2 separate regions of the Homo sapiens genome follow, and region 1 is linked to region 2. The links come from fine-mapping of genetic effects on gene expression. A gene starts in region 2. The other region holds a variant in brackets. All regions are shown on one strand. Distances are between the middles of the regions. Region 1 overlaps PIK3C2B (phosphatidylinositol-4-phosphate 3-kinase catalytic subunit type 2 beta). Region 2 holds the start of PIK3C2B (phosphatidylinositol-4-phosphate 3-kinase catalytic subunit type 2 beta).

Evidence for each region. PIP is the estimated chance that this variant, and not a neighbour inherited with it, causes the effect.
Region 1: its variant is fine-mapped to the expression of PIK3C2B in whole blood (TOPMed, PIP above 0.99).

What each region holds. Positions count from the first base shown.
Region 1 is chr1:204,451,390-204,466,910 of GRCh38, reverse strand. It overlaps PIK3C2B (phosphatidylinositol-4-phosphate 3-kinase catalytic subunit type 2 beta), which reads left to right. Exons shown (of 33, transcript NM_001377334.1): 3 at 1,592-1,692; 4 at 2,307-2,461; 5 at 2,779-2,899; 6 at 6,250-6,361; 7 at 6,508-6,587; 8 at 6,970-7,033; 9 at 9,037-9,183; 10 at 9,841-9,874; 11 at 10,860-11,055; 12 at 12,120-12,242. Among named protein-coding and RNA genes, the nearest start is that of PIK3C2B, 36 kb to the left of the region's middle. RefSeq lists silencers at 4,416-4,710, 9,524-9,724 and enhancers at 8,595-9,094, 9,095-9,596, 11,104-12,081, 13,674-13,783. The variant C/T (reference allele first, on the strand shown) is at 10,213.
Region 2 is chr1:204,486,829-204,502,349 of GRCh38, reverse strand. PIK3C2B (phosphatidylinositol-4-phosphate 3-kinase catalytic subunit type 2 beta) reads left to right here and starts at 7,545. Exons shown (of 33, transcript NM_001377334.1): 1 at 7,545-7,994. LOC124904584 (translation initiation factor IF-2) reads right to left here and starts at 10,599. Exons shown (of 2, transcript XM_047439554.1): 1 at 10,589-10,599; 2 at 6,618-8,174. The coding sequence starts at 10,599. The coding sequence ends at 7,154. RefSeq lists silencers at 7,396-7,865, 9,425-9,504 and enhancers at 7,966-8,095, 8,166-8,355.

The DNA.
Region 1 (15,521 bases), 35 kb after region 2:
CTTATCCCAGGCCAGCGGAGCCAGCTCTGGAACTGGCTGGCTCCAAATGCCAGCCTGATACCCCTGCTGCCAGCCTCTGCCCGGCAGACTCCCCCAGCCAGCATCGGGTGATGCCACCAGGGCCTGCCAGCTGGGCAAACGTAAGTGGCTTTTGTTTTCTTATGGTGCCAGTGAGTGGTACAGAAAGGACATGAGAGTGGCCTTCAGTGACCACTCTGTTCTCTCCCTCTCTTGCCTTCTCTTCCCTCCCCCCACTGTCTCTCTCTCTTTCTCTTTTTCTTCCTCTCTCTCTCCTTTCTCTTGTGGGTTAATTGCTGACAGTGGTGCTATTGTTTTGACTGGGACACAGGCACGAACTTGGCAGAGCCAGGGCCTCACATGCCAACTGTCCCCACTGCTGCCCTCCCCTCTGTGCACCCCCACCCCCCGCCGCCCATGCACACCCAGGGGAGCAAGCCTAACAAGAGAGGGTCAACCAGAGGAAACAGTCTGGATATTCAAATGAGGAGCTCAGTTGCTGTCATCTGCCCCAAGAGGCAGAGAGGACTTGAGAGTAGCCAAGAGGTTGGGTGAGAGATGTGAGGCGTTGCTATGTGCACAGGCCGGAGCTAGACTCCCGCCAGAAACAGCTGTTGGAACCACATGCCGGCCTTATCTCCATCTGAGCTGAAGCCTCGTCCCTGGTGTGGCCTCCCAGGCTGCCCTGAGCAGACCCCTCAGGCAGAAACCTGTCATGCACCAGCTCTCCCTCCCCCTCACTTCCTTCTCCCTAGGGCTGGGCTACAGGCCTTGCTAGGGGCTTCTTTAGGAACCCTCCTGGGTGACTGAAAGCAGCTCTGGGATGGGAGACCGTTTGGGACCTTGTCTGAGAATCCTACCACCACACACGTATTTTGAGAGAGGAAGTGGGGCCAAGGCAGGCTCCCTGACATTCCGGCCGTTCAGAGCCGGCTGACTCGGAAGCCAGAGGAGCCAAGCTTCTACCAGGTCCTCCCCTGCCCAGACCACTGCTTTGACGCTTTCTTCCTCAAATAGCATTTACCCAGAAGGCACATGTGTCTGAGTCATCTCCTCTATCTAAGGGTTCTGGGTCTCTCTCTGCTTTGGGTCCATGGGGCTTGTGGATATTGAGGCTTTAGACCAGGGCCAAGCTTCCCTGGGCACCATTTGGGCCGCCCACCTGCTCTAGCCTCAGTAGAGGGGCTGGGAAAAACAGCTGTCTGCTCTGCTCCCTGTCACGCCTCTGGGAGAATCCCCCGGAAAGCCCGTGTTGCAGGAGAGGCCCAACAGCACTGGATTGCCTTACTGGCTGCCTCACGCTTATCAGACTGTCCCCTCCTGAAGTGGCTTTGGCCACACTCTTGTCCATCTCAGCCAGAGCTTCGCCTCCTTCTTCAACTTGGCTCCTGGTCTCCTAGGACAGCAGATACATGTATTCCCGGATGTCCCATATGTTCTTGTGCCCCTTTCATTGGATGTCGAGTGACTAGAAAGTCTTTTCATCTAGAGTTTGAGTTTAGGTCTGGAGTACCTCATAGGGAGGGGACACCACGAGGAAAAAGGCACTGAGTCGTCTGCTCTTCTCTTAAAGGTGGGCTCCCGGCCCCACACTGTTGCCAATGGCCATGAGTTGTTTGAGGTCTCAGAAGAGAGAGATGAGGAGGTTGCTGCATTTTGCCACATGCTGGATATGTAAGAGTTAAAGAATGGGGTGGGATTTGGGAGGGCTATGGGGGATGGGGAGGGGGGCCATCCATTTCCAAACTTTCTTTAGGAGGGAAGAAGCACCATAATAAGTAAATCTCAGTTCATAGCTATGAAAATGCTTCCTACAACAAGTGTCTGCAGGGTTTTTGAAATCTTAGAAGTCTCACATTTTTAGCAAAATTCATGAAACCTCCATTGAATGGTCAAAGTATCCTGATCACTCTAGAGTCTGACCCTCAGTTGCCCTTAAGAGCAAATGCACCCCAGCTGGCGATAAGAGTGTTATCTGGAACTAAAAGAGAAAGGAAATGGATTCATAAAAAATTTTCCATTAAACTTAGCATGGAAAGCTTTGTCATTTTAGAACTATTTGTACTGTTCAATGGTGGGAAACATTTTGCAATTATAAGAGAAGTGTCAAGAAGGGGGTTTCTCAGAGCTGCTACCCCACTGCCCCCATCCTGGCCTGCAAATTTGGAGGGCTGGGCTGAGTGGGGACAGAGGGGCTCTTGAGCCTCAGAGCATGAGGTTCCCAACAGATGTCTTCTTGACTACTCTCTTCTAAAGGCACAGTGAGGGTTTTTTTTCTTCCTGTACAGCCTTCGATCTGGCTCTGACATCCAAGACTACTTCCTCACTGGCTATGTCTGGAGTGCTGTCACCCCTAGCCCAGAGCACCTCGGGGATGAGGTCAACCTGAAGGTGACTGTGTTGTGTGACAGGCTTCAAGAGGCACTCACTTTCACCTGCAACTGTAAGTTAGTGAGGGGGGAGAGGATGTGAGCATCCCTTGAAGTGGGGTGGGGATGACTGTGTTTTGACTCGATTTCCACCTCATCTTGTGGCCCAGATGAAGGGCAGTGAGGATGCTCCTTTGGGGGTGAGGGGCTGGCTATGGGGCCAGCATTCTAGTACAGTCACTTTCCTCAACTCTGAACTACTTGCCTGCTTTATCTGGTTGGTGATGGTGCTGGAGAATACTTAGCTGGAAAGGGGGATCAGGGTGGGGAAACTGAGACCCATCTGCCTTGACATCCATCATGATTGCTCCCCCTACCTTACCCTTCACAGGTTCCTCCACTGTAGACTTGCTTATCTACCAGACCCTGTGCTACACCCATGATGACCTGAGGAATGTGGACGTGGGTGACTTTGTGCTAAAGCCCTGCGGGCTGGAGGAGTTCCTGCAGAAGTGAGTGAATGGGTGGGAGGTAGCCCCTGCCTTCCTGGTAGTAAGATTGTGAGGGGGCTTCATGGGATTGGTGCTGGGACCGGCCTGGCAGCTCCGCCCCAATCCCACAGTCAAGACTCCTGCTTTCTGGGCACACTCTCGGCCACGTAGCACTTTCCCCAGGAGCTCTGTCTTCCAGCAGGGTTGGCTGACGTCCTGAGCCAAGTCTGCTGTGGAAAGAGCTTGGAGCTGGGATTAGGCAAAGACTAGGTCATATCTGCTTGCAGATTCTGCTTATGGAGAGATGTGTGTATTTGTGGGGAGGGGTGGGCTTGGGGAGACTATATGGGTAGTGCTGTATCTCCTGCTCTAGATTATGTGTGGTGTTTTTATGGCTGGGGCAAAATGAGGACTGGGCAGAAGTTCCCTTGTGGAGCCCAGGGGAGAAATTACAATTACTGTCTCTCCCCATTCTCCTGCCAACAAGTCTTTTCCCCAGCTGGCCCGTGCAGCTAGTTATCCTCCTCCCAAAGGCGTGCCTCCAGCTCCTCTCCATCCAGTGCCCTCTCTGGAAAGCAGCCTCCCTGGAAAGTCTGATGTGGACCAGCTGAGGCAACCCCCTTTCCACTACCCTGGGCTCTGGAGGGCTGCAGTGGAAGAGAGGCAGGGGCAAGGTTATCACTTCTCAGATGGTACAGCTGTGTGACAGCAGACAGATAAGATCTGCTTTCCTCTCTTAGGCTTCAGAGCCGCTCCTGCCCCCAGTCTCTGTCCACTTGGAGGAAGCACGTTTTGGGAATAGAGAAAGGAGAGACCTGTGTCTCACTTCTTAGGAGTGCCCTATAAGTGCCACTGCTTGCTTTTTCTCTCTCTTACATTCAGGTCTAGATGCAAGGATGGTTGATCTATGTCTAGAGCATAAGATTTGGCAGTCAGGATGGAAGATTCATTTCTGGACTTCTTTCTTTTTTTGAGACAGAGTCTCACTCTGTCGTGCAGGCTGGAGTGCTGTGGCGCCATCTCACTCAGCTCACTGCAACCTCCGTCTCCCAGGCTCAAGCGATTCTCATGCCTCAGCCTCCTGAGTAGCTGGGATTACAGGCATAAGCACCACCACGCCCGGCTAATTTTTGTATTTTTTAATAGAGACTGGGTTTCACCATGTTGGCCAGGCTGGTCTCGAACTCCTGACCTCGGGTGATCTGCCCGCCTTGGCCTCCCAAAGTGCTGGGATTACAGGTGTGAGCCACTGTGCCCAGCTATCTGGGCTTATTTCAAATTTAAGGATATTGTGGGGTCCTTTCTGGCCTCTGCCTCCTCATCTCGAAGCTAAGGGAAAGGAAAGAGGCAGGGTTCTGTATGGTACAACTCCAGGGTACCCTTCAAATGTGCCCCACCTTTAAACTCACTTATGTACACACTTTTCCCCTAGAGGAACAGGAGGGGTCCTAGACTCAGGGTTGCCTGGCAGAGAGAGTGCCAGGTGGCCTGCCACTGTTAGAAGGGAAAAAGGGGACATAGTGGATAAGTTGGAGCTCCTGCTGACGCCATTACACAGGTTTGAATTCGGACTTGCCACTTACTAGTTGTGAAGGCTGATTGATGCTCAGGGCCCTCTGTAAGCTGCAGTGAGGGTGAAATGTGAGAATGACCTGTGAGCAATCAGTAAATACCAGCAGGGAAGGAGCAGCCCACGGAGAGAAGTCCTAGGGCTCTGGGCTGCACAGATACTGCCATTTCCCTTGCAGCACCCCAAATCCTGGAGCCCCTGGGTCCGGAGGTAGTGGGAGCTGTCAAGTTCTACCTTCCTGCTAAGACTCAGGTGAAATATTCTTAGTGAGGTGGGACAGGGTCAGCGGTCCTCAGATCACACCCCTCATACTCTCACTTGAATGCACAGAGAGGAAGGCCTTCCACAGAGAAGATCAAGCAAGTCCCCAGGGGACCTGTGTGCATGACTCCTGGCCTAGGAGCCCCACTCCCACCCAACAGAAAAGCACAATGCTGTCTCCTGGCCCAGCCCCCAGACCCCCAACACATGACAACTGCCTGGGATGGGGGTGGAAAGGACGCTCCGGGGGTTCCAGAAATCTGCTAGTTCCCAAGGAAGCCCTGAGATTTTCTACCCCTGCCTGGCAGGAGGGGCTGATACTGAGGGGGTGAGTGGGTTCAGGATGCAGGCTGCTCTCAGATAAGAACCTTGAGGCAGTCCCGTGGGAGGGTTGGGTTTCCTGCCACCTCCCCCAGCCCCACCACACTCTTCCTTCCTCCCAGGCTCTCCCACCAGGCCCAGCCCCACAGCCCAGCCTCACCACCTCCAGGTTTTGGCTGCACTTCAGTCTTAGATCTGAGAGGGTCTAGATCGGAGATTTGGTCCTCTCAGGATGTGGAGAACCCCTCACTCGAGCCCTCATGGGACCTAGACGACCCTGGGCCCTGCACCTCCGCCAGCTTTTACATATACTGCCCCCCTTATGCTCCTGTCCTCTCCTCTCCATTTCTGGCCTAGATTCCCAGCTCTGCTGAGGAAGGAAGTCCTTTTCCGGCTTCTGTTACCCAGCTGCTGAGGCCAGGCCCAGGCCTGCAGTGCTGGCCTGGAGGTAGTTCTCCCTCTGCCCCTCCTCTTGGGTTTCCTTGCTGTTGAAGGTGTGATTTGGGAGAGAGGAAGAGGTTGGATCGCCGAGGGCTCCTAGGCCTTCTCTCTGAAAGGGGGAGTCTCACACATGGGTGCTTGAGCAGGTGGGACTGGCATGCATTTGGGACTTTTCAAGAAGTCATAGAAATTTGTAAGGTTATTCACAAGCAGGCAGGGCCAACAGATGGAAGGCAGAAAAAGAAGTTGGGTGGGGACACTGATCTGGAGGCTTGGTAGGCTTGCCCCAAGTTTTTTTGGCCTCAGCACCCTAGTTGGTAGCATTGGAAGAGGGGTCTCTCGCTGAGCTCCCACCCTGGAGCCTGAGCACAGGTGGACTCCAACATGTCTCTTCCTGGTTGTCCCCTATACAGAGGCCCAGAAGATAGGGCTTCAGCAACTGCTCCCTGTGATGTGCCTCTGTTTCCCCGCTCTCTCCAACAGTTCCCAGCCCTGGAGTGAACCAGTGATTACCACACGGGTAATAAATATCTAAGAGAGTCAATATTTATACCGGCCAAGGATTAAGTATATTAGGTGGCTTTTGTTTAGATAGACCTCTGTTCCTTCTCCTAAGCTCTACCGTGTCATTTTCTAGGAGCCAAAGTAGGGTACAACACGGGTACTACCCCCTTACCTAAACCTTCTTTCTGTATGTCTCTCCCCAAGGCTAAGGTATGTATCTCCCTTGCCACTGAGTCCCCAGGATGCTAATGGTCTTGTCCCTCTACCCTACCAGCAAGCATGCCTTGGGCAGTCATGAGTACATCCAATACTGCCGCAAGTTTGACATTGACATTCGGCTACAGCTGATGGAGCAGAAGGTTGTGCGCAGTGACCTGGCCCGGACGGTTCGTGTGAGGGTGGTGGAGGGTTGCCCAGGGCTGGGGAGGTGGAATGGGAATACAATATAGAACACATCAGGTGGGAGGGGGGTAGGAGTGCTGAGCTGAGATAAGGGCACCGCCCCTCTCTGAATAGGTCACTTCTTATACAGGTGAATGATGACCAGAGCCCCTCCACCTTGAACTACCTCGTCCATCTCCAAGAGAGGCCTGTCAAGCAGACCATCAGCAGGTGAGTGTGGGCACCATCTTGGATGTGCTCCAAACAAGAACTGTGCAGGGATCCCATCAGATGTGCCTGCTTGCCTTTCTGTCAGGGCTAAGGGATTCTTGCAGGTGTCAGGGGTTGGGGCCCACACATCTTATCAGAGAAGATCCCCACTCCAGGCATGTTTCATTTCTTCCCTCTGGAACTTTGCCATCATTCTCTCCAGGCGAGAAGTGGCAGAATAGAAAGACTCTCCCTCTATATGTCTTCACAGGACATATAGAAAGAGTGGGAACTCCTTTAAATCAGAGTGTGAGCTGAGGAGAGGGAGGGAGAAAATGGGTTTCCCAGGGCACTGGGTCTTTCATGACCTCTCCTGTGGTTTTTCCCTGCCCCCAACTCCCAGGCAGGCCCTGAGTCTTCTGTTCGACACTTACCACAATGAGGTGGATGCCTTCCTGCTGGCTGATGTGAGTACGAATCCAGGGGCTGGCCCTGCTGCCCGAAAGCTCCTCCTCTCCCCTTCCTCAGTCCTCCTGGGATCACCCAGCACTATGAGGGGTCTGGGTGGAGCCTGAAAATCTGTTGGCAGAGCACTTCTTTTTAACCCCTCGCTCATGGGCAAACTAAGACTACTAGATGTTGGGCAACGGCAAGTGCGTAGTCAGGGATTCTGCTCCTCTATAGAAGAAGCAGGTCGGAAACTGCATGCTGGTCCCATTCTCTGGAATAGGATGTCTCCAGAGCTAAGGAACCTAGAGCTGTCACCCCCCAGCTGCTGCACTTGATGTACACTGGAGCATGCATCCTATGAGCAATGTCAGAAACCTCCAGTTTGAGAGGTTCTGTTTTGCTGTTATCGCAGGTAGGAAACCATCAGGAGGTAGAAGGTTTCACATGTAGGGAGGGCCAGAGCCCTCCCCACTTGGATTCATGCGGAGTCTCAAGCCTCAAAACCATGAGAGTCAACATTTGTCTTAAATGTCACAACGCCAAAGAAAATCTGACAGTGATCTTCAAAAATAATCCCTTGCTGAGTGTGATGGCCCACGCCTGTAATCCTAACCCTTTGGGAAACTGAGGTGGGAGAATTGCTTGAACCCCAAAGTTCAAGGCCAGCCTGGGCAACACAGCAAGACCCCATCTCTACAAAAAATACAAAAGTTAGCCAGGTATGGTGGCACACACCTGTAGCCCCAGCTACTCTGGAGGCTGAGGTGGGAGGATCGCTTGAGCCCAGGAGTTTGGGGCTGTGTAGTGAGCTATGATCACACCATTGCACTCCAGCCTGCGTGACAGAGTGAGACCCTATCTCAAAAAACAAAACAAAAACCAATCCCTGTCTCATTGATCCAGTTAATAGTAGTCATAAACGCTTCCTTTTTGAGGGGTTCAGCATTATGTCTAGTCACTGCCAGAATCCCTTCTCCAGCAGCCTGTGCTTGAACATTTCCAGTGATGCGGGGGAAGCTCTCTGAACACCTGTGCTGTGCTGTTCTGGCCCTTTGCTAGTGGCTACGATGGGTAGAGAAGTGTAAGAATCGTCATAGCCTTGGCCAGGTGCGGTGGCTCACGCCTGTAATCCCAGCACTTTGGGAGGCTGAGGTGGGCGGGTCACCTGAGGTCAGGAGTTCGAGACCAGCCTGGCCAACATGGTGAAGCCCCATCTCTACTAAAAATACAAAAATTAACTGGGTGTGGTTGCAGGCGCCTGTAATCCCAGCTATTCAGGAGGCTGAAGCAAGAGAATTGCTTGAACCCGGGAGGCAGAGGTTGCAGTGAGCCGAGATCGCGCCATTGCACTCTAGCCTGGGTGACAGAGCAAGACTCCGTCTCAAAAAAAAAAAAAAAAATTGTCATAGCCTTTGGGGAGCTTGTGTTCTTGTTAGAAAAATTGAATAGTAACACAAAGCTATTAGTAGACAGAACAGGATGGTAATAAATTAATTAAGGGCTCCTGGAGGATGCTAGAGGAAGGGGATTGGCCAGGGAGGGCTTTATGCAGGAGGTAGAATTTTAGCTGCTCTGTGATTTAAATGTACATAGGTAATCAGAGCTGGACAGGTGAGGGAATTCCAGGAGCATAATTCCAGAGGGGAGGTTATGGCTGTGGCATGTCTGTAGAAATGAGATGAGATCTGTCTGGAAATTCTACAGGTCTCTGGGAGAGACCCTGTATATATGTGTATAGTATAAGTAGACTAACTATAGAGAGAGGCTAGAGATAGGAGGAGCTTCAAGGGGAACGGCTGAAAGAATTGGGGCATGTGGGCATGGCCCATTGAATTCAGTGGGAGAGATTATTTGCTGATGATGAATATTTGAAAATAAAATGTATTGCACATTTACCCCTGAGGATCATGAATCTCTCTACTCTTCCCAACCCTTTCCTTTAAAGACTGGGGTGGGGAGGGGTTGGAGACCAAGAGCATGAGAGCAGAGCCTGCCAGCCTCACTGTGCCACCTCCCACAGGGAGACTTCCCACTGAAGGCTGACAGGGTGGTCCAGTCCGTCAAGGCCATCTGCAACGCCCTGGCCGCCGTGGAAACCCCTGAGATCACCAGTGCTCTCAACCAGCTGCCCCCCTGCCCCTCCCGCATGCAGCCTAAAATTCAGAAGGTAAAGGGGCCCAGGGTGCTAGCAGGGGAAAGGAAGAGAGGGATACTGTCAGGTAACTGAGTTGCCTGTTGCTAGAGTGTGTAGGTGTTCACTCACTAAAAAGGGGCTTCTCTCCACCTCCATCTTTTATGTTTAAGGAATTCAACCGCAAGAGCTCTTCAGAAATGGATGCCAAGTGTGTCTCCTCTTCCTGAGGTTGAGGGAGAGCTACCTGGGACTGCTTGTTGAGAGCCCAGGCCAGTAAAGGCTTTATTCACAGTCACCAAGGCATTGCCTGACAGTCTGCATATCCATCAGGGTGCAAAAACAAACCAGGAGGAAAATCTCTCTAGAGCCAGGGGCTCCAGGACTCCAGCAGGGGCTGTGTGCTCTGCAGACAGGGCCAGCACCATAGGCACTGTGATCTGCAGCCGAGTAGCCTGAGGGTTGGGATATCTCAGAAGGGTGGACCCGATGATTGCTATCCTCCGTCAGCTCACTCTGTCCATCATACAGATCTGGTACAAACCATTACTCTCTCCTCTCTGGGGATTCTCAGCTACTCACATTTCAGCCCATTCTGGTCCAGATGAGCGCAGCTGTGAAAAGCCCTTCTTCCAGCTGTGACGAAAAAGGCTATGGCCCTGAAGCTCCCCTCCCTCTTCTTTTTCCCAACAGGATCCCAGTGTCTTGGCTGTGAGGGAAAACCGAGGTAAGGGAACTGCTCTCCATCTTCATCCAGTCGGGCTGCCGAAAACTGCAGTCTCTGCCCCGATTCCTTTTTCTGCCTGGGCCCCTTGATTTATGTGTCGGAGTTCGGCTGGTGTGTGTGTGTGTGTGGGTGTGTGTGTGTGTGTGTGTGTGTGTGTGTGTGTTCCTATATGAGGTGTGGATACAGCTGGAGAGCACATTTCTTTCCACAAAGTGTTTTCTTATTATTTTTCCTAGTCATTCCTCCTGGTGTCCCTGGGAGATGATGATGAGGGGGTAGAAGTGTGGGAGTGGGGTGGTGGGGCAGCACTAGCCCTGTGATCCAGATGGGAAGCCTCC[C/T]ACTTGGGTAGATTGTGATTATTCTCCCAACAGCTCACACTTGCTACCTTTCCGATTTAGAGTGGGCCTTGGGAGAGGATGAGAAAGAATTTTCCCTACGATTTTTCTAGGATTCCCCTGTTGTGCCCTTCAAGCTGAACTTTGCCCTAAGACTGACCTATATCCCTGGGATTCCTTTGTTTTGGTTTTGTTTTTTGTTTTGGCATCCCTGGGATTCTTATGGTGATTCCCAGTCTTTTGGATTTCATAGACCAGTAAAATGTCCCCCAAAGTATTTGGGGGACCAAGAGAGAATTGGCAGCCTTTTACTTGGCCAAACTTTTTTGACTTTTGCTTTTTTGAAGCAACTGACAATAATTATTAACACTGTTTCCTAAAAGAAAGGACATTTTAATGCTAAGTAGCAATACGTAAAAATAAGGATTATGTTTAACATTGTATAACTGTCATTTTATGAAAAGCTCATGACATGCTTCTGCTTTTTTCTCATTTTACCGCAGATGGGTGAACTTTGTCACAGCTATTAGAGACTGACTAGCATTTGGGGACCACTGTCTTAGGCCATCCCATTCTAGCCAATGCCATGGCAACAAGGTAGGGCTTGTGGAGGCCTCATGACTTTCCCTTCTGACCCCTTCCCTTCCCAGAGAAGGTCGTGGAAGCCCTGACCGCTGCCATCTTGGACCTGGTGGAGCTGTACTGCAACACATTCAACGCAGACTTCCAGACGGCAGTGCCCGGGAGCCGCAAGCATGACCTGGTCCAGGAGGCCTGCCATTTCGCCAGGTCCCTGGCCTTCACTGTCTATGCCACCCACCGCATCCCCATCATCTGGGCTACCAGGTGAGCCCAGGGCTGAGTAGCCGCTAGGGAGCAAGCTGAGTTTGACCTCCACCAGGGCTTTTTCCTATCTGCATGTAATACCACTGTCCTAAGTCTTAGGATGTGTGGCATTGTGTGACATTGTGGTGCAATGGGGCTGCGGGGGTGAGCCAAGTGCCTGAGGAGGACTTGGGCTGGGGACATCCTAGAGGAGAGAGGAGGTCCCTTAGGAGATGAAGAAGATCCTGTTATTCCCTCTTGGTGCTGGCTGCCTCTGCATCCCTGCCCCCTCCAGATCCAAGACCAGTGGAAGGAGACATGGCAACAGATGGCCGATTCCCAGATAGAGTGCACGCTCCCTGGCCAGTGGGAGGGGGTGGGGAGGTGGGATTGACCCTTTGTCTGGGGTTCTCTAGGCCTGCAGGGGTGGGTGGAGGAGGATGTTCTTTTGGTAAAATCCTCAGCGCCTCTGTTGGGTCCCCAGCATCCAAGGCCTGAGGGAATAGGCACTGGGCCCTACCCCGCCCCTGCCGGTCCCCTTTCCCCAACCCCCTTCCCCTTCTCTCTTTGTTCCTTACTTAATGTATTCCTCTGGGCGATTGGCAGAGAACAAAGGAGGCAGCCTGGGAAACCGGGGCCTTCTCTGACCTCTTCTGTCAGGCACCTGTCATGAGCCACAGGGACCCCCGTGTGTTGGCATTCATGTCGGCATATGTCGTCTTCCTCCCCCACCCTTCTCACTTGCGCATGCACGTGCACGCGCACACACGCACGCACACACAGACGCTCCATGGGCTGGAGCTTTCTATAAAGAGGCTGGGTGGCCAGTTCCCATTAAAGGAAGAAAAACAACAAGGCTCAGAATGGAGCCTAAAACCGAGCAGAGGAATCTAGATTGAGTTGCTTTGGCCTGAGCACATTTCCTTACATCCAGTTTGGCTGTCCTATCCGGAGATCCTGTGTTACAGCCCTCAGAGACTGAGAGTTTTACCAGGGGAAATGGATTTTGGCCTTAGAGGGACGCATAGGTTTGGGTGATTGGTTTTGGGAGCTGGGTGTCCTGACCTGCTCCCTTTCTTTTATAGCTATGAAGATTTCTACCTCTCCTGCTCCCTCAGCCATGGCGGCAAGGAGCTGTGCAGCCCCCTGCAGACCCGAAGAGCTCACTTCTCCAAGTACCTCTTCCACCTCATCGTCTGGGACCAGCAGTAAGCCCTTCCCCCAGGCTTCAGTGCCCAGGCCACTGTAGACCTGCTCAGCCTCTGAAATATCCCTGGGGCCAGATAACTAGTCCAGGACTAATGATAAAACCAGGCTCCTTGTTAACCCTAACTGGACAAGTCATTCAACCTCTTGAGTCTCCACTTCCCTGACTCTTTTTTTTTTTTTTTTTTTGAGAGGCAGCCTCGCTTTGTTGCCCAAGCTGGAGTGCAGTGGTGCGATCTCGGCTCACTGCAAGCTCTGCCTCCTGGGTTCACGCCATTCTTCTGTCTCAGCCTCCCGAGTAGCTGGGACTACAGGCGCCCGCCACCACGCCCAGCTAATTTTTTGTATTTTTAGCAGAGATGGGGTTTCCATGTGTTAGCTAGGATAGTCTCGATCTCCTGACCTCGTGATCTGCCCGCCTCGGCCTCCCAGAGTGCTGGGATTACAGGCGTGAGCCACCACGCCTGGCCTCCACTTCCCTGACTCTTAAAGGAGCCAAGTATAATTACCACTTCTCAAGTTGTCATGAGGATCCAATGAGAAGTATCTATAAAGGCTCTTTGTAAACCATAAAAAACATATAAATTTTAGTTGTTGACCAGGCGCGGTGGCTTACGCTTGTAATCCCAGCGCTTTGGGAGGCCGAGGCGGGCGGATCACCTGAGGCAGGGAGTTCAAGACCAGCCTGACCAACATGGAGAAACCTCGTCTCTACTAAAAAAAATACAAAATAGCCGGGCATGGTGGCGCATGCCTGTAATCCCAGCTACTAGGGAGGCTGAGGCAGGAGAATCGCTTGAACCCGGGAGGTGGAGGTTGTAGTGAGCTGAGATCGTGCCATTGCACTCCAGCCTGGGCAACAAGAGCGAAATTCTGTCTCAAAAAAAAAAAAATTAAATGTTAGTTGTTAATTTTAATAATACTTTATTTTTTGATCTTGTCTCCCTTAAAGAGTTTAACTAGTTGGAGGGCTTCTCATCCTCTCCCTTCTTCCCTCAGTTCCTGTAGACTATGGAGAGGAGACTGTGCTTTTCCCTTTATATATAGAGAAGGGAGGGTTGTCTAGAGAAAGAATATTGAGCTTGGATTCCCAGGAGTGAGCCTCTATTTCTAGCTCTGTCTCGAATACTACTTTCTCTCTATTCTTTCTGTGCCTCATTTTTTCAAACTGAGAAATGGGGACATTGGTTTCACTCAGAGGCAGTTATGGCGTCGAGATGAGATAGGTGGGTTATAAATATAAATATGAAACCAAAAGCACAAGGTAATATTAATCACCACATGTAAACAATAATTTGGTGTCGGGAAGGTAGGCGTCAGCCAAGCAAAGCAGGAAGGAAACGGAGGAGAGGGTGCCTTGCTTGAATGGGGGCACCGCAGGGGTTTTCCTGCCCTGTGCTTCATCTGTGCTATGCTCTACCTTCCTTCCAGTCAGTCAGAAAATCCCCTGTTTGCTGCCCCCGGCTTTGCTTCCCCACACTGACTATATTAGAGTCCTCATTTGCAGAGCAGCACTGCAAGCTAAGTATTTGTAGCACAGATTAAAGAGACTGAGGAGGGTCCTGGGGAGGCCGAGGATGCAAAATAGGTAGATGAAGAATCTGGAGATGCTGGAAGAGGTGGGTCCTTTTACAGATGGACAACTGGGAAAATGGACCCTTTCTCATGCCCTTCACACTTAGGTAATTCTTAGAGCAATAAAGGTGTATATGGCTGGGCACGATGGCTCACACCTGTAGTCTCACCGTACTTTGGGAGGACAAGGCGGGATAATCACTTGAGATCAGGAATTTGAGACCAGCCTGGGCAACACAAAGAGGCCTTATCTCTACTAAAAAATTATTTTAAATGAGCTGAGTGTGGTGGCGTGCATCTGTAGTCCTAGCTACTTAAGAGGCTGAGGTGGGAGAGTCACTTGAGCCTGGGAGGTCGAGGCTGCAGTGAGCCATGATCACACCACTGCACTATAGCCTGGGCAACAGAGTGAGACCCTATCTTAAAAAAAAAAAAAAAAAAAAAGGACATGGGGTGTGCATTAAAGGTCCTCAAGCAAACAACTGCCAGGACAGGAGAAACTCCTTGCAGGCAGAGGATAGCTGCATTAAATGGCCCTTGAGTTCCACCATTCCCTTGGGATTTTTTGGTCACAATTACTGCTGCTGTCAAGAGAAGGGGTGCCAGCCTGGGCAACAAGGGAGACCCAATCTCTACAAAAAATACAAAAAATTAGCCAAGTGTGGTGGCATACACCTGTGGTTCCAGCTACTTAGGAGGCTGAGGTGGGAGAATCACTTGAGCCTGGGAGGTCAAGGCTGCAGTGAGTATCCAGCCTCGGCAACAGAGCGAGACCCTGTCTCAAAAAAAAAAAAAAAAAAAAAAAAAGGGTGCTGCACAGTGTTCTGGCCCAGGAGGAACTTTAAAAAATTGGCCTTAAACCCTTTACTCATACAGTATCAGAGGTAGAGAGGCAGCCCAGCCTGCCCCATGAGTTTCATTTTGTTCCCTGAGATCCCCACCTTGAATTTTAAAGGGGCAGTCCCCTGCCTAGCGCCTTGTGAAGGGCACTATCTTGCACTGTCCATCCAGAAGCCCCGAATGAGACTTCTTGGCCCTTCATGGTCAAGACCAGGACATTTGGGGGAAGGCGTGCCAGCGTTCAGAGGACAGTCTTTGGGCCAGTCATTCTCTCCTTCCTACTGTAGTTGCAGCCTGGGGCAGGTCTTTCAACCTAGAATGGTAGCGATAATAGGGCCTACCCTACAGGATTGTTTGAGGAGCAGTTAGGACACTGTAAATAAAGTACTTGGCACAGGCTTCTTAGCTGGGGAGCCCTCTTGGTTTTGGTTTCTCTGTTCCAAGTGACTGACAGACTGGCTGATACATGGGGATACGTGCGCATGAAAATACTATCTGTATAAGCCAGTGCCAGTGCAGTAACCACAGCATCACATAGCAAAAAGTACACAGTCTGCACACACATCATGCAAGTGAAGCTATGTTCCCCTTTTCCCTGATGAGAAACTGAGGCACAGAGATGGGAATTAAGTTGCCCAGGATTGTGAGTGGCAGAACCGGGACTGGAGCCAACCAGCACATTCCAGGAATCCTTCCTGGAGGAGGCAGCCTGTGTGATATGAGGTTGTTGAATGGGCTGCAGGAAGGAGAGGGGCTTCTCAGGGAGGAAGGTAAGGGCTGCAGCCAACATAATGGTTATCCTGACCAGCCCTGGGTGAAGATCTGTGGGAGAGGTTGTGGAATACCAGATATACCCAAGGACTGAA
Region 2 (15,521 bases):
ACCAACAGTGTACAAAGATCCCTTTTCTCCACACCCTCGACATCACTTGTAATCTTTTGACTTTTTGAGAGTAGCCACACTACCAGGTGTGAGGTGATATCTCGTTATGGTTTTGCCTTACACTTCTCTGATGATTAATGATGTCGAGCACCTTTTCATATACCTGTGGGTCATTTGTATGTCTTCTCTGGGAAAATGTTGATTGAAGTCCTTTGCACATTCAAACAAAATTCTGGTTATTTGTTTTTGTTTTGTTTTGCTATTGAGTTTTATGAGTTCCTTATATATTTTGTATGTTAATCCCTGATCAGATATATGGTTTGCAAATATTTTCTCCCGTTCTGTATGTTGCCTTTTCATTTTGTTGATCCCTACTATAATAATCTTTAAAGGGATGTTTTTTACCCTCCTTCTCATCAGAATTACTGCCTTTGGAAAAAAATCACCATCAATCTGATTACCCACTGTTTCCACAGCAGTGAGCTAGGCACAGAGGGGGAAAGTTGTGGACCCTTCCTTCCCAGAGTTCCCCAAACCAACACCAAGTCGTAGCTACCTACTCTGGGGCCCAGTCTTCTATCGCCACAGTATAGTGCATAGAGTCTTTGGAGCTGACACCATCACAAGGTACTAAGAAGATGTATAGTACAGGTTGTTTTTGTTTGTTTGTTTGTTTTGAGACAGTGTTGCAATCATAGCTTACTGTGACCTCAATCTCCTGGCTCAAGTGATTCTCTCACTTCTGCCTCCAGAGTAGCTGGGACTACAGGCATGCACCACCATGCCTGGTGAATTTTTTTTAAAAATGTTTTCGTAGAGATGGGGTCTTGGTATGTTGCCCAGGCTACTTTTATACTCCCTTAGCTCAAGGGATCCTCCTGCTTCAGCCTCACAAACTGTTGGAATTATAGGCATGAACCACCATGCCTGGCTGAGCCCAAGAATCTTACATAGCATCAAGAGCTCAGATACTGGAATAAATACTCCCTAAACAATGCAGCCCTCAAATGTCATGGATCATTGAAAAGGTGTAGGGAAGAAGTAGGACTGATTTCAAAGCCAGTAAGAGTCAAAGGATTGAAGAAGTCAATCTATACATAAAATATTTACAGAGCACCCCACCCCATCTCTAACATCCAATCATCTTTCAAAGATATTTGAATATTTTTGAAGAAAGCCTACTGAAGGATTTTAAAATAAAATTGTTATAAATACTGTCTTTCAAAATATTAGTTTTGAGTTGTATTACAGATTAGTCCTAGCCTAGAGCAGACCTATGAGAGAATATAGCACAGATAAACAGATTCTACCATCATCTCCTTCCATTGATTTCAGCCATTTGCTCCCTCACCAGTAATCTACTTATTATTACCACTGAAATCTTTTTTTTTTTTAAGATAGGACCTCAACTCTGTTGCCCAGGTTGGCATGCAGTTGTACCATCATGGCTCACTGCAGCCTCGACCTCCTGGACTCAGGTGATCCTCCCACCTCAGCCTCCTGGGTAGCTGGTAGTACAGGTACACACCACCATGCCCAGCTAATTTTTTGTGTTTTTTGTAGAGATGAGGTTTTGCCATATTGCCCAGGCTGGTCTTGAACCCCTGGGCTCAAGCAATCCACCAGCCTAGGCCTCCCATAGTGCCAGGGTTACAGGCATGAGCCATCACACCCGGTCACCACTGAAATCTTAGACTCTCAAGCTTTTCATTTTCTGGCTCAGTCACTCTGTCTTCCTGTAAACTAGATCCAGGTTTTCATCCATTCACTTATTGACCAAGAATTTATTGAGCACCAGCTTTGAATGAGGCAATGAATTAGGCCTAGAAATTCAAAGGTAAAAATAATGGAGATTCCTTGTCTTTAAGGCGCTTACAGTCCGTTGCCCTCCTCTTCTGTCCCCTCCCCAATTCAGAAAAAAGTGGACAAGCAATTATATATAACACCCATGATCAGTGTTATAATCCAAGTAGCTATTGGGTGTGTCTAGACACTCTTAGGAGGCACTCTAGGGAAACTTTGCAGAGAATTTGTTGTAGGATGTATTAGTTTGTTATTGCTGCTATAACAAATGACCACAAATTTAGTGGATTAAAGGAACACAAATTTATTATCCTACAGTTCTGCAGATCAAAAGCCCAACATGGGGTTCACTGGGCTAAAATCAAGTATCTGCAGGGTCATGTTCCTTCCTGGAGGCTCTAGGGCAGGATCTGTTTTTTGACCTTTCCAGTTTCTAGAGGCCATTCACCCCCTCCAGCTCAGGACCTCCATGCTTCAACTTTCAAGCCAGCAATGTTGCATTTTTCCAACCAGTCTTGCGTCATCACATCTCTCCCTGACTTCGGCTAGGAAAGGTTTGCAGCTTTTAAGGACTGACGTAATTAGATTGGGCCCACCTGGATAATCCAGGCTAATCTTCCACTCCCAAGGGCCTTAACTTAATCACATCCGTAAAATCCTTTTGCCTTGTAAAATAATGCAGCCATAGGTTCCAGGGATTAGGAAGTGGACATTTCCTCCTTTGGGAGGCCATTATTCTGCCTACCATGTAGAGAGACAGCTGCATAAAAGGAAGCGGGTAGAGGTGGGGATTGGAGGTAGGAGGCCCTTTCCAGGAAACCATGTGGAAGGGCCGTTAGGTGAGAATATTGTGCATTCTAGGAACTGTAGGGAGTTTCGTAAGGCCCAAGTATGAAGTTTACATTGGAATGTGGGAGGCTATTCATTCAATACATATTTATTGAATACTATGTGGTGGGTGCAGTTTGGGAGATGCAGGGATGCACAAGACAAAGTCCTTGTTCTCTGAGGCTAGAATGAAAAGCAAGGGCTGACTGTGAGAGAATTCAGAGTTTCCTTAGGAGATTGGACTTTAAGAGTTAGAGAAAGTCATGCATTAATTCATCTGCCAAAAATTTTGTGAGCACAAGTGCCAGGCATTGTTCTAGGCTCTGAGAATACAGATGTTTAAAAACCAAAGTCAAAAAATGCCATGTCCTACATGTTAGTTGATTTTAAGCAGGAGAAGCAGATGTTTGCTTTGGAAACATCACCCTGGCTGGGTTACTTGAGAAAAGATTGGAAGGGGAATAAGATTAGAGGTAGCTCAGTCCCTTTCCTCCCGCTTCTTGAAGATTCACAGCCTTTGCTGAGCTTCACTTCCGTCCTTGAGGACTTCCTCTTTTGTCAGGAGCCCTCTTTTCCTTTTATGCCTCTACTGTACCTATCTTGGAAACCTGACCTCATGTTCTACACCTGGGCTTCCAAGTGCTGCAGAAGAAAATGATGAAAACATTCGGATGTTTTTATTCATAGCCACAACATATTAGAGTATCCAATGCCAGCTGTATCTTCAACTCTGCTGACAATTCTCTCTCTCTCTCCTCTCTCTGGAGCTACCACTCTCATTCCTTATTCCTTTCTATTTTAACCTTAACCACTTTTTTTTTTTGAGATGGAGTTTCACTCTTGTTGCCCAGCCTGGAGTACAATGGCGCGATCTCGGCTCACCGCAACCTCTGCCTCCCTGGTTCAAGCGATTCTCCTGCCTTAGCTTCCCGAGTAGCTGGTATTACAGGCATGCGCCACCACGCCCAGCTATTTTTGTATCTTTAGTAGAGACGGGGTTTCTCCATGTTGGTCAGGCTAGTCTGGAACTCCCGACCTTAGGTGATGCGTCCACCTCGGCCTCCCAAAGTTCTGGGATTATAGGCGTGAGCCACCGTGCCCAGCAACCTTAACCACTTTCTTTAAGCCTTTAACCTCATCTTGAGCCTTTCTCTCTCAGCAGATTGCTTAGAGACTACAAGGCAGCAACTAGTCCTCTCAACATCTAGTCTCAAGTTCTAGTCTCTTTACCAGTCTACAGATGCCTCTGCTTTTGTACAGCCTTCCTCTCAAAGATATCAGAGGCAGCTCCACCCCATATACCTGGGTCCCAACTCCCTCCTATTCATGATCTCGCTCTCCTTGGTCTTACTCTTCAGCATATGAAAATGCTTAAGCCTTTCTTATCCTAAAAAGAAAAAACAAAAGTCTCCCCTTTGATCCTGCATTCCCCTCTACCCACTGCCTTATATTTCTCCTTGTCTTAAATTGCCAAGCTTCTAGAAAAAGCATGTGTCTTTTATTCCAGATCCAGGTTCATTCATTCACTTAGTGACCAATAATTTATTGAGCACCAGCTTTGAATCAGGGAATGAATTAGGCCTAGAATCCACTGGAGGCATTTTCTAGCCTACCCTCCTGGAGGTTCCTGCTGCACTGGTTATCCAGTCATTCTCTTCTGAGATTCTCCCACCCTAGTTTCTGACACTCTGTGGCCTCCAGTTTTTCTCTTACCTCTCTGGTTGTTTCTTCTTTCCTCCTTATGCCCATCTGGACGACCTCATACAGGCTTATAACTTCACTGACTACCCATAACCTACAGAATCCAAAGCTGCTATCACTTGTTCACACCCCAATATGAGTTTAGTTTCATAAGTTTGCTGTCTACTAGACATCCCCATCTAGACATTCCACAGATACCTCAAACCCAACATGTTCAAAATTAAGCTCAAGATCCCTCTGCCAACACCTGGGCCCTGTCTTTCTAATTGTCCCTAACTTAGGGAATGGTACCACCTGCCAACAATTTCTAAGGCTTCAAATGGGGAGTAATTCCAGAGTCCTCCTCTTCCCTAATTTCCTACATTTTATATATTTATCAAATACTATTGATTTCTCTTTATAAGTATCTTTTGTATCTGCTCCGTTTTTTTCATCCCCACTGCCACAGCTCTGGCACAGTTTTGAGATTCCCTGATTTCCCACCTGGAACGTAGCCATGGTTTCTCTGTTGAGCTCCCAGGCTGCACTCCTGACTTGTGTTACTAGGTCCTGGCAGAAAGCAAATGGCACACTGCACTTGAGGGGTAATTTGAGGAGAGGTTAAAAAATAAGGGGACAATTTATAAAGGGTCGGCGGAGTACAGGAAAACCACAAGAAATAGTGTACAATCTACTAGGGCCAGTAGCAAATCAATGTTTCCACCCCCAGGCCCGAAAAGTCAAAGGAGGGGAGTGATTACCTGAATCAAGAGAGAGGGAGGGGGCTGGCACTGTGGCTCACGCCTGTAATCCCAGCACTTTGGGAGGCTGAGGAGGGTGGATCATGAGGTCAGGAGATTGAGACCATCCTGGCTAACAAAGTGAAACCCTGTCTCTACTAAAAATACAAAAAAAATTTGGCCGGGCATGGTGGCATGCGCCTGTAGTCCCAGCTACTCAGGAGGCTGAGGCAGGAGAATCGCTTGCACCCGGGAGGCAGAGGTTGCAGTAAGCCACTGCACTCCAGCCTGGGCAATAGAGTGAGACTCGGTCTCAAGAAAAAGAAAAAAAGAAAAACAAAAGAGAGAGGGAGGGGAGAGAGAACCACCCGTGGAAGCTGTGATCTTTGGTTGAGGGTGGCAGCCAGCGCACTGTGACCCCAAAGAGAGGAATCCTGAAGAATAAATATCCAGTTTCCCCTGACCTCCCTCCTTATTCAATCTTCAGCCATGGCCCCCATTGGCCAACCCAGTCTAGGAAGCCAGAGGGCCAGGAAGATCTGGAGGGGCAAACGGAAGACATGCAGTGCATCTTCCAAATCCTTCTCTATAATATGCCAGGAAGTCTTTTTCTGGTCACACTACTTCCCAGTTCCATTTGTGCACAGCAGGTTCTCTGTCACCTACAGCACCTAAACTTTTTGGCATGCCCTGGTTTCTCTTTATTCAATTTTTTCCTTACCAAAATGCATGATAAAGCCTGTGATCTGATCCTCCACTCAGCTACCTATGCCTACTTCCTGTTAGTTCTTTCCTTCAGACTTTTCACCCCAGCAGCATAGAACCACCAGTGGTCGCCGGGCGCGGTGGCTCACGCCTGTAATCCCAGCACTTTGGGAGGCCGAGGTGGGTGGAACACAAGGTCAGGAGATCGAGACCATCCTGGCTAACACGGTGAAACCCTGTCTCTACTAAAAATACAAAAAAAAAAAAAAAAAAAAAGAAAAAATTAGCTGGGCATAGTGGCGGGCGCCTGTAGTCCCAGCTACTCCGGAGGCTGGGCCAGAAGAATGGCGTGAACCCGGGAGGCAGAGCTTGCAGCGAGCCGAGATCACGCCACTGCACTCCAGCCTGGGCGACAGAGCAAGACTCCGTCTCAAAAAAAAAAAAAAAAAAAAGAACCACCAGTGGCCCCTGTAACACTCTGTTCTCTCAGGCTCCTGAGCTTGACCTGATGACAGACACAGAGTAAGCTGTCATAAATATTTGTATGGTGAAGAAGTGCACGGACACGTTTTTTAACCCCTGTGGCTCCTGAGATCAGGAGTAGCATCATATACATTATGACATATGTGCAGACCAAGCTGCCTTCAGTTAATTATCAAGATGTTTCACCTACATTCTCTCCTTTGATCATTACGAAAGCGTGATAGGTGAGGACGCTATTCTTGATATTCAGAGGGTGAAGTGGAATACTGAAAGTCACAAGCATTGGGTACAGAAGGCACTGTAGGATCAGAAAGGGGAGTGATCCCTTTCCTCCCCATCATAAGAGTCACAGCCGACACTTCTATAACAAAAGACAAGTTAACCAGAGAAAAGCATAACAAATTTATTTAATCATGGTTTTACTTGAGAGGCTGAGGACCAGGTGTTAATCTTCATAGTCTGTCGAGAAAGAAAGAAGAAATGAGGGCAGTGGAGGAAAACACGATTCACGTTTTTAGGAAAATATACTTTGAGATTAGTGATCGTTGGTACTATGCAAACCAAATGCAAACGAGGAGCTGGCCAACTCATGGTTTCTTTTGGGTGGAGCCTTTAGGAAAATTCTTCCAGAGACCACTGCTGGAAGAAAGGTATTTAGAGTAGAAAATTTAAATATAACATATTGTATGAAAGGTTTTTTTTTTTTACTTTTTTTTCTCACTACCCTAGTTGGGTTGGAGGATCCTCTATCTCCCCTCCCTACTTAGGTTGACTGCTGTTTCCTGGATCGCAGCTCGGAAGATCCACCTGGGCGAATACAAAAACAAACGAGACTCCCCTTCCAGAAAGGGAGGAAGGAAGGAGACAGAAAGACGAATGACACTGAGCGTGTAAAGCCCGGAGACAGCCTCTCTCTACCCCAACCTAACCCTCAAGGTAGGGGATCCCCCGAACATCGCTACCGTAATTATGGTAGAAATTCCTGAAACGGATAACTGGACCTCAGCACCGTCATTTCTAGCAGAATGATTGAGCTTTCCTCTGACCCAAAGCCAAGGGGTTCCAGCAGGGGAAACTAACGACCATCCGCAAAAACCCTCACCCAAGTGGGGAGTGGAAATCCTGGCTCTTGGGTTGCAGAGCACAACTTGACGCCAGCGCGTTTCTCTTCCCCCACGCAATGGCAAGTGGGGCGGGAGTCGGAGGGGAGAGGAGGAGAGGAGAAGAGAAGAGGAGGGGGAAGGGGAGGGGAGAGGCGAAGGGCGGCCCGGGTTCCAGCAGCCGCCCCGCCCTCCGGCTCGCGGCGGATTCGGCGCTGCGGCTGGAGCCGGCGGCCGGGTGCCTGCCTGTCCAGGCAGGGTCTGGCCGAGCGTCGCGTCGCCGTGCAGTGCGCCGGGTGTCCGGGAGATGGCTTCCCCTCTCTCGCCCGCTGCTGCCGCTATTGTCTCACCCGGGGTGGCCTGACTCTGCGAGCTCGCGCACGCTCTCGGCGGAGAGCACCCCTCCCCACCCCCACAAGCTGGTCCTTGCGCCCTTTGCTGCCTCTCCCTCTGCCCCTTGGAGCCTAGGGTCTGTGCGGAGCCTGGAGAGGGGAGCGGCCCGGGAGCAGGCGGCGTGCGGCCGGCCAGCTCCTCTCGCGCTGGTGCAAGAGGCGCCTGGAGCCGCAGAGCGAGCCCGGGAGGCGCGGAGCGAGCAGCCCACGTCGCCAGGCACAAGACACGTCGGATGTTGCAGCAGAGCCAGCAGCTAGCGCAGGTAGGACACGCATCCTGCGGGTTGCATCGGCCCCAGCGTCTGTAAAGTGCCCCCAGAGTGGAGGCAGCCGAGGTCAGGGGGCTCTCCCTCCAACATGGCAACAGCGGAGGTGCAACAATGGAAGCAGCCGAGGGTTCCTGGCGGCGGGCTGAGCGGCGGACGCCGTGGGAGCCTGAGCTCCTGCCCGCCGGGCAGAGCAGGTTGCCCCTCACCCCACTCCACTCCACTCCAGCAGCTTCAGGGCCTCTGGGGCTCCAGGCACCCGCGTCCCCACCCCCTTCTCGCTAAACACACTTCCTGGCTCCCAGCTGCAGGGCGATCTGAACCAGTCAATGGCTTTGGGGTTTGTTTATTTAAGATAAGAAATAAAAAAAGCAAAACCTGTCCTGTGATGGGGTTAGTGCCTTCTGTGGACTGGGTGAGAAGTCGGCATCTAGCCTGGGGAATGTGTACGTTTCTTAGTCGGGCGGAGGGTAGAATTGGATTCTCCCTTATAAGGATACTGCAGCAAAAGGAGACTGAAAGCTTGAAAGAGGGAGAGGGACCCTCAGGCCTGAGTTCGCCGGTGCTGGGAGAAGGCGCTGCTCTCCTGGCCTATACTTGTCCCTCATTTTCAGCTCCCGACAGCGGTGACTTTGATGTTGGAGGAGCAATCGCAGCAGGAAGCACAAGCAAGGCTGCCAAGCTGGTGTGGGGTGGAGTAGGGTGGGGAGCCCAGGGGCTTGGCAGGCTTCTGGATTGTGGGAAGAGGTTACCAAATGTATGAGGTTAGTGCACACACCCTAGTTGGCTGATGTTGAAGTGTGTGTGTGTGTGTGTGTGTGTGTGTGTTTTCTGCCATTGCTCTTGCTCCTTCAGGCCTGCCTTTTCTCCTCTCCACCCGCTTCTGGGGTCTTCGTAGCTTCCCTGCCCCAGCCCTTCCAATCATGCCTGGGATGGAATCGCTGTATTGTCTCTGGCAGCTCTCTTGGGCTGTTTTTTCTCAACTCTGTTGGAGAGTTTTGTACCCTGGGCTGGCTGGTCCCAGCATGGCACCAGATTCTTTAGCAGGCGGCTACCCGGGCTCCAAGAAGTGGGCCAATGCTGCCCCTCCTCCTTGCTCTAAACTACCTATTTGGGATATGGCCAGGCAGATGTAAGCAATTTGTACTAAATTCCAACCCTGAATCAGTGCTGAATGAAAACTTACTCTGTTGCTGCATCAGGCTTTGGGAAGATATTAGGAAGAGAAATGGCCCAGGAGGTGGCAATGCCGACCCCCAAATACTTCCCTCTCCCCAACTCCAGCTGCCGATCCCAGAGCAGACAGGCAGTGAGACTTTGGAATCCCAGCTCCTCCAGAGTCTGGCTGGCCCATCTTGAGGTTGTGTCCATGGAAAAATTAAGTCGAGGCACATTTTATAGCTCTGCTTGGCAGCCAGCATCTGAAGAGATGGTGGCTCTGAGCTGGAGCCCTAGACCCAGGCTGTGGCTGCTTCTCCTTTGGCCTTTGGGTGAGCCTGAGGTTTGATTGCCATGGCTCTGAGCTTACTGCTGAGTGTGTATGGCTGAATCTGATCAAGCTCTCAGACCCGGCTGCTTGTCTATTTCCTTCTCCACTGGAAGCATGAGTGAGAAAGGGCCAAGGGGGTGTGCTGGGTGAGGAAGGGTCAGTTTATCTGGGGACTTGGGCTGTTTCTGGGGGAGCTCCTTTGGACTTCCTTGGTGGTCTGGAATGCCTTTGGTCTTTGTCATGACCTAGTATGCTCTGGCAGATACTCTATACCCTCGTGGGCCTTTGGTCCCCGCTTGGTGGTGTCCCCACTCCTCCTGTGCCTGGTGCTTTGCATCTATATCATGTCTGTGGTGCTTCAGCTGGGATGGCCCTGGCCTGGACCAGTGGGTAGAAAAATGAGGTCTCTGTTCCTTTTAGGGGCTTGTAACTAGCTATAAGGTTCAGGCTCCTCATGTTCCCAGGATGTGAACTTGGACATCATAATGTGAAGTAGTAGAGAAAACAGTGTCTTGGTGTGACTTTCTTTTTAGCTATGTGAGCACAGACAATTTGTGGACCTAAGATTTAGTTTGTATATTTGTAAAATGGAGGTGGGGGAGTAGCCATGGCTCACAGGATTAATAATGAAATGCTGCTTACCAAGAACTAAACAGAATCATGTGTGCAAAAGTACCCTGAAAACTACAGAGTACTTTACAAATGATTATTCTTACTGGGTTTAGCCTCCCACATAAGGGAGGGAGATCTGTGAGGGATGGGGATAGGGTGGGATCTGAGGGCCACATGGAGTAGGGAATGTTTTGGGACCTTTTCTTTCTTGCTAAGGAAAGAGTAGTGTGACAATACCAAGGTAACTGCTGTATTCCTTGGGTATTTTTCTTTAAATAGTGTTGGCAGGATGGGAACTGGGAGAGAAGGAAAGGATGCCTCATGATATTTGTAGGAATTGAGGAGGGATAAACACCTTCCAAAGGCTGGCTACTGCCTATAGAGAGGATAATGCTGAGCTGGCAAGTAATGTAATCACTAACACTCACTGATGTCAGCCAGCTAGTAAATGATAGAGGTGGGATTTGAAGCAAGCAGTCTCACTCCTTACCCTGTGTTCATAGCCTCAGTGCTACTCAGAGAGATATTGGGTCTTGGGAGAACAGAAAGGGACAGCAAAATTGTGGAGTTCATTCTTTTTGTTTGTTCTTGAGACAGGGTCTCTCCCTGTTGCCTAGGCTGGAGTGCAGTGGGCTCAAGTGATCCTTCGACCTCAGTCCCCACCCTGAGTAGCTTGGACTATAGGCATGCACCACTACATGTGGCTAATTTTTTAAGTTTTTGTAGAGATGGGGTCTCAGTATGTTGCCCAGGCTGGTCTCAAACTCCTGGCCTCAAAGGAACCTCCTGCCTTGGCCTCCCAAAGGGTTAGGATTATAGGCATGAGCCACTATGTCCAGCCTCAGAATTCATTTTTTTTTTTTGAGACAGAGTCTCACCCTGTCACCCAGACTGGAGTGCAGTGGTGTCATCTCAGCTCCCTGCAACCTCCGTCTCCCAGGTTCAAGGGATTCTTGTGCTTCAGCCTCCCGAGTAGCTGGGATTATAGGCGTGTGCCACCATGCCTGGCTAATTTTTTGTATTTTTAGTAGAGACAGGGTTTCACCATGTTGGCCAGGCTGGTCTCGAACTCCTGACCTCAGGTGATCCACCTGCCTCAGCCTCCCAAAGGGCCAGGATTACAGGTGTGAGTCACCATGTCCAGCCTCAGAATTCATTCTTAATGGATTCCTTGAATGCCCATGAGACGTCACCAGCCTGGGACATCTCATGGGCATGTAGGCATAATAAATTTTTCTGGGCCTCATCTGCTTTTCTATGCATTTTTATTTCTATGTCTACCTTCCAAGGAAGGAAGAGATGTGGGATAATCTGATCAAGTCATATTGCTGCCTTCTGAGCAACACTAATAGAAGGTTTGGGACTTGGAGGATCCTGGGGAAATTAAGGCAGATTTCTTGTTTTGGTATTTTCATATCTGCTTTATTTTGCATCTGTTTTATAAAATGAAACTTGAGGGACTATTCTTGCCTTTTTTTTTTTTCTTTTTCTGTTGAGACAGGATTTCACTATGTTGCCTAGACTGATCTCGAACTTCTGGTCTCAAGTGATCCTCCCACCTCGGCCTCCCAAAGTGTTGGGATTACGGGCATGAGCCACCTCTCCCAGCTTGTTCTTGCATTTTGTAAGATCACATAGAGTATCAAAACTGGAAAGGACCTGGGCCATCACTTCCCTGAGAAAAAGTGACTTTCTCAAGGTCATGCAGTTAGTAGCAATGCTGGAACTGAACGCCTACCCCGCAGATCACAACATGACCCGTGAAAGGACCTATCCTGCAACACTTTGGAGTTTCGTGCCGACCCAATTAGTGGCTTTGTCTTTGGGAAATTTACTTCCCCAAAACACTGGGACATTGGGATGGAATTCACTCACCCCAAATCATCACCCTGGTTAAGGAGACTAAAGAATCAGAAGACATTTGTGCTTTGGGGAGCAGAGGCCCTCAGGGTATAGAGAAGGAAGAAGAGAGAGGTTCACTGTAGTCCTGAAGCAGAAATAAGACCTGTGGCTGAAGGAAGCCTTAGCAATTCACTCCTTCCTCTTCCTGAGAACTCTCTGTAGGAAGTCTCACCTAGCAGAGGCTTCACAGTATTTCAGAGAAGCCAAAGATTGTTTGCCTCTTTGGAAACTGTTATCCTTCCATCATGACTGTGTCACTCCTGCCACTGTTCCACCATAGAGGTGGGTGCCTAATATTAGAGAGTTGTTTCACACACGTGGCTCATTCCTCAAGCCTCGCTAAGCCAAGCCCACCAGGAAGAAGCTTGAGTGGAAGCATTCTCTCCAGCCACATCTTTCTCTCTTTCTCTCATACTAGATGGCGTCCTTTGCAGCAAACCGTAAGTTATAAGGATGAGGGAAGAAGAGTAGAGGGCCAAAAGGATTCCATTTTGAGGAAAAACTACAGTTTGCCTTGCCAGGTAGAAGAATCAGGTATGAGTTCTTTTTGTCTCAGGTAATAAACTAAGCAAAGCCCAGATAGTAGTAATGATGGAGCCCTTCAACTATTGACGTCTCCCTAAGAGCCCTCATTTTCTGAAAGCAGAGTGTTTGTCCCATTCCTGACTCGCCATGCTGTGTGTCTCCCAGAGAGTGAAAGAAATTGCTGTGACTGCGAGCACCAGTAGAGTGGATTTAATTCTCACCAAGAAAAGGGAGGTGGTTTGCAAATGGGTTGTTTTGGGATCCTGGGAGAGGAACATTGTAGCCAGAGATATTAGATTTTCACTCTAGACTTTAAGGAGGCAGATTTTTTTTTTTTTTTAAATTAAAAGATAGGGGCCAGGAATAGTGGCTTATGCTGTAATCTCAGCACTTGGGAGACTGACATGGGATGATCACTTGAGCCAAGGAGTTTGAGACCAGCCTGGGCAACATAGCAAGACCTTGTCTCTACTAAAAATAAAAATAAAAACAATTAGGGTGTGATGGCGCACACTTGTGGTCTCAGCTACTCAGGAGGCTGAAGTGGGAGGATCTTTTGAGCCCAGGAGTTTGAGGCTGCAGTGAGCTATAATTGCACCACTCTGATTGCATCCAGGTTTCACTGTAGCCTGGGTGACAGAGTGAGACCCTGTCTCTGAAAATAATAATAATAATAAAGAGCTTGTACAATTAACTTGAGAGGAGCCAAAATTTGAGTCTAGGTCAGGAAACCTCTAGAACCTGTGTTCCTTCTGTGCTATGCTGAAGGGGACTGTGAGAAAAAAAATGTTCATGAGGCTCGAGTCCTGAATGAGATGGAGCTTCCCCAAGAGCCAGTAATGACACAAGTGGTTCTTAAAGTCATTTCTGGAAGACAATAGGATCACAAGGGTTTAAGTCTATCAGATCATGTTAAAAAGGAACTCATTCATTTATTCATTAATTTGACTAACATCTTGATTGTTTACTAGTGACTTTAGGTACTTTTAAGTCATTGAGTGGGGGAAATATGGGTTGCCTTGTGAACTCATCAGTGGGGCCTTTTTGATGGTCAGACTTCTTGGAGGAAATTAAGTGTTTGCAGAGATCTGAACAATGAGTAGGAATTGGGGCAGGATGGGGAATGGAGTGTGGTGAATGAGGTGAACTGAAAGCAGTTTAATCTCGCCAGAGCCACTGAAGGAGTTTGCATTTTATCTTTTGGGCATTCATTCCACCATTGTACATTGAATGTGCACTGACACTCTTCTACGTGCACAGCAGTGAAGAGGACAGGTAAAACCCTTGCCTAGTGCTTGGTGTTCTGAGAAAACTTAGTTCACTCATAGTTCTTAGTCCACTAAGAGTAGTTCACTAAGAATTAAACCAAGCTTTTTAATGTTACTGACAGGAATTCTATACTGATAGATAGGGAATTACTTGGAGAGATTCTCTAGTTGAATGCAAGGAAAGTTTGAGAAGGACTCTCATGATAATCCTATAGATTATACAGGGTAGAGACAAAAGGTGGGTTAATGATTGGTTGATTGTTCATTCAGCAAAAACATCTTCAGTGCCTCTTCTCATTCATTCTTACATTTATTCACTCATTTATCAAATGACTGGCAGTGCAAGTTCGGCAGATGGTTAAGAGCACGGCTTTGGAGCCAGATTACTTGGGTTCAAAGCCTGGCTCCACCACTTACAAGCTGTATGACCTTGGAAAAGTTATTTAACTTATCTGTGCATCACTTTCCTCATACGTAAGATGAGGGAAATAATAATACCAGACAAAATTTGTTGTAAAATGAAATGAGTTAATTAATGAACTACTTAGAGCAGTGCCTGATGCATGTAAATGGTGACTCAACAGCTCATGGTTCTTGTAATTATTATTCCTCAATAGCAGGTTTGTGCTAAATTCTAGGAATACAACCTTGAATTGAGTGTGGTCCCTGACCTTGAGGGAACCACATTGCACCCCCCTCCCACCCAAAATGCAGGTAAATGGATGAGTTTCTTCATGGAGTGGGGTAATCCTATAAGCTCAATATGAATCGATTGTGATAAGGTGCCCCAAGAGTTATATATATACAGTCTTAGGCAGCATTTCCCAGCGTCTTAATATATAGTCTTAGGCAGCATTTCCTAGAGATTATAGAAACTAGAACTGTGGTGTTTATTATTTTGGAGATCTCTAAACTTAAGAATCTGATAAATGCTGTGGGGTGTCTACTTGGAAAAATACATTACAATTTTGCCTTCAAACAGCCTCCAAACCTCTGATCCTATGATGAGGAGCTGTTAACTCTTCTCCTCTGGGTTGGTCAGACCACGCTGAGAACACAGTATTAACAGTTCTGTACTGGAGCATGTACTTCGTGTAAAACATTGTGCTAAGTATCCTGGGGGAGACAAAGATAAATACGAGGTAATCCATGCGGTTTAAAGGCTTAGTGGAAAAGAATGTTTTGTATGTAATGAGATGTTTGTAGATACATGTTGAAATGATAAAAGTAAGAATGTTCATCTTGAGCAATGGAACGAGATTTATCTATACAAAAATTTAAAAATTAGCCAGACATGGTGGTGTGCACCTGTAGTCCTAGCTACTTGAGAGGCTGAGGTGGGAGGATCACTTGACCTGGGGAGTTTGAGGTTACAGTAAGCTATGATTGCACCACTGCACTCCAGCCTGGGCAACAGAGTGAAACCCTGTCTCTTTAAAAAACAAACATAGAGGCTGGGCGCAGTGGCTCACGCCTGTACCAGCACTTTGGGAGGCTGAGAAGGGTGAATCACCTGAGGTCAGGAGTTCAAGACCAGCCTGGCTAACATAATGAAACCCTGTCTCTACTGAAAATACAAAGATTAACTGGGCCTGGTGGCATGTGCCTGTAATCCCAGCTACTCTGGAGGCTGAGGCAGGATAATTGCTTGAATCCAGGAGGTGGAGATTGCAGTGAGCGGAGATTGTGCCACTGAACTCCAGCCTGGGCAGCAGAGCGAGACTCCAT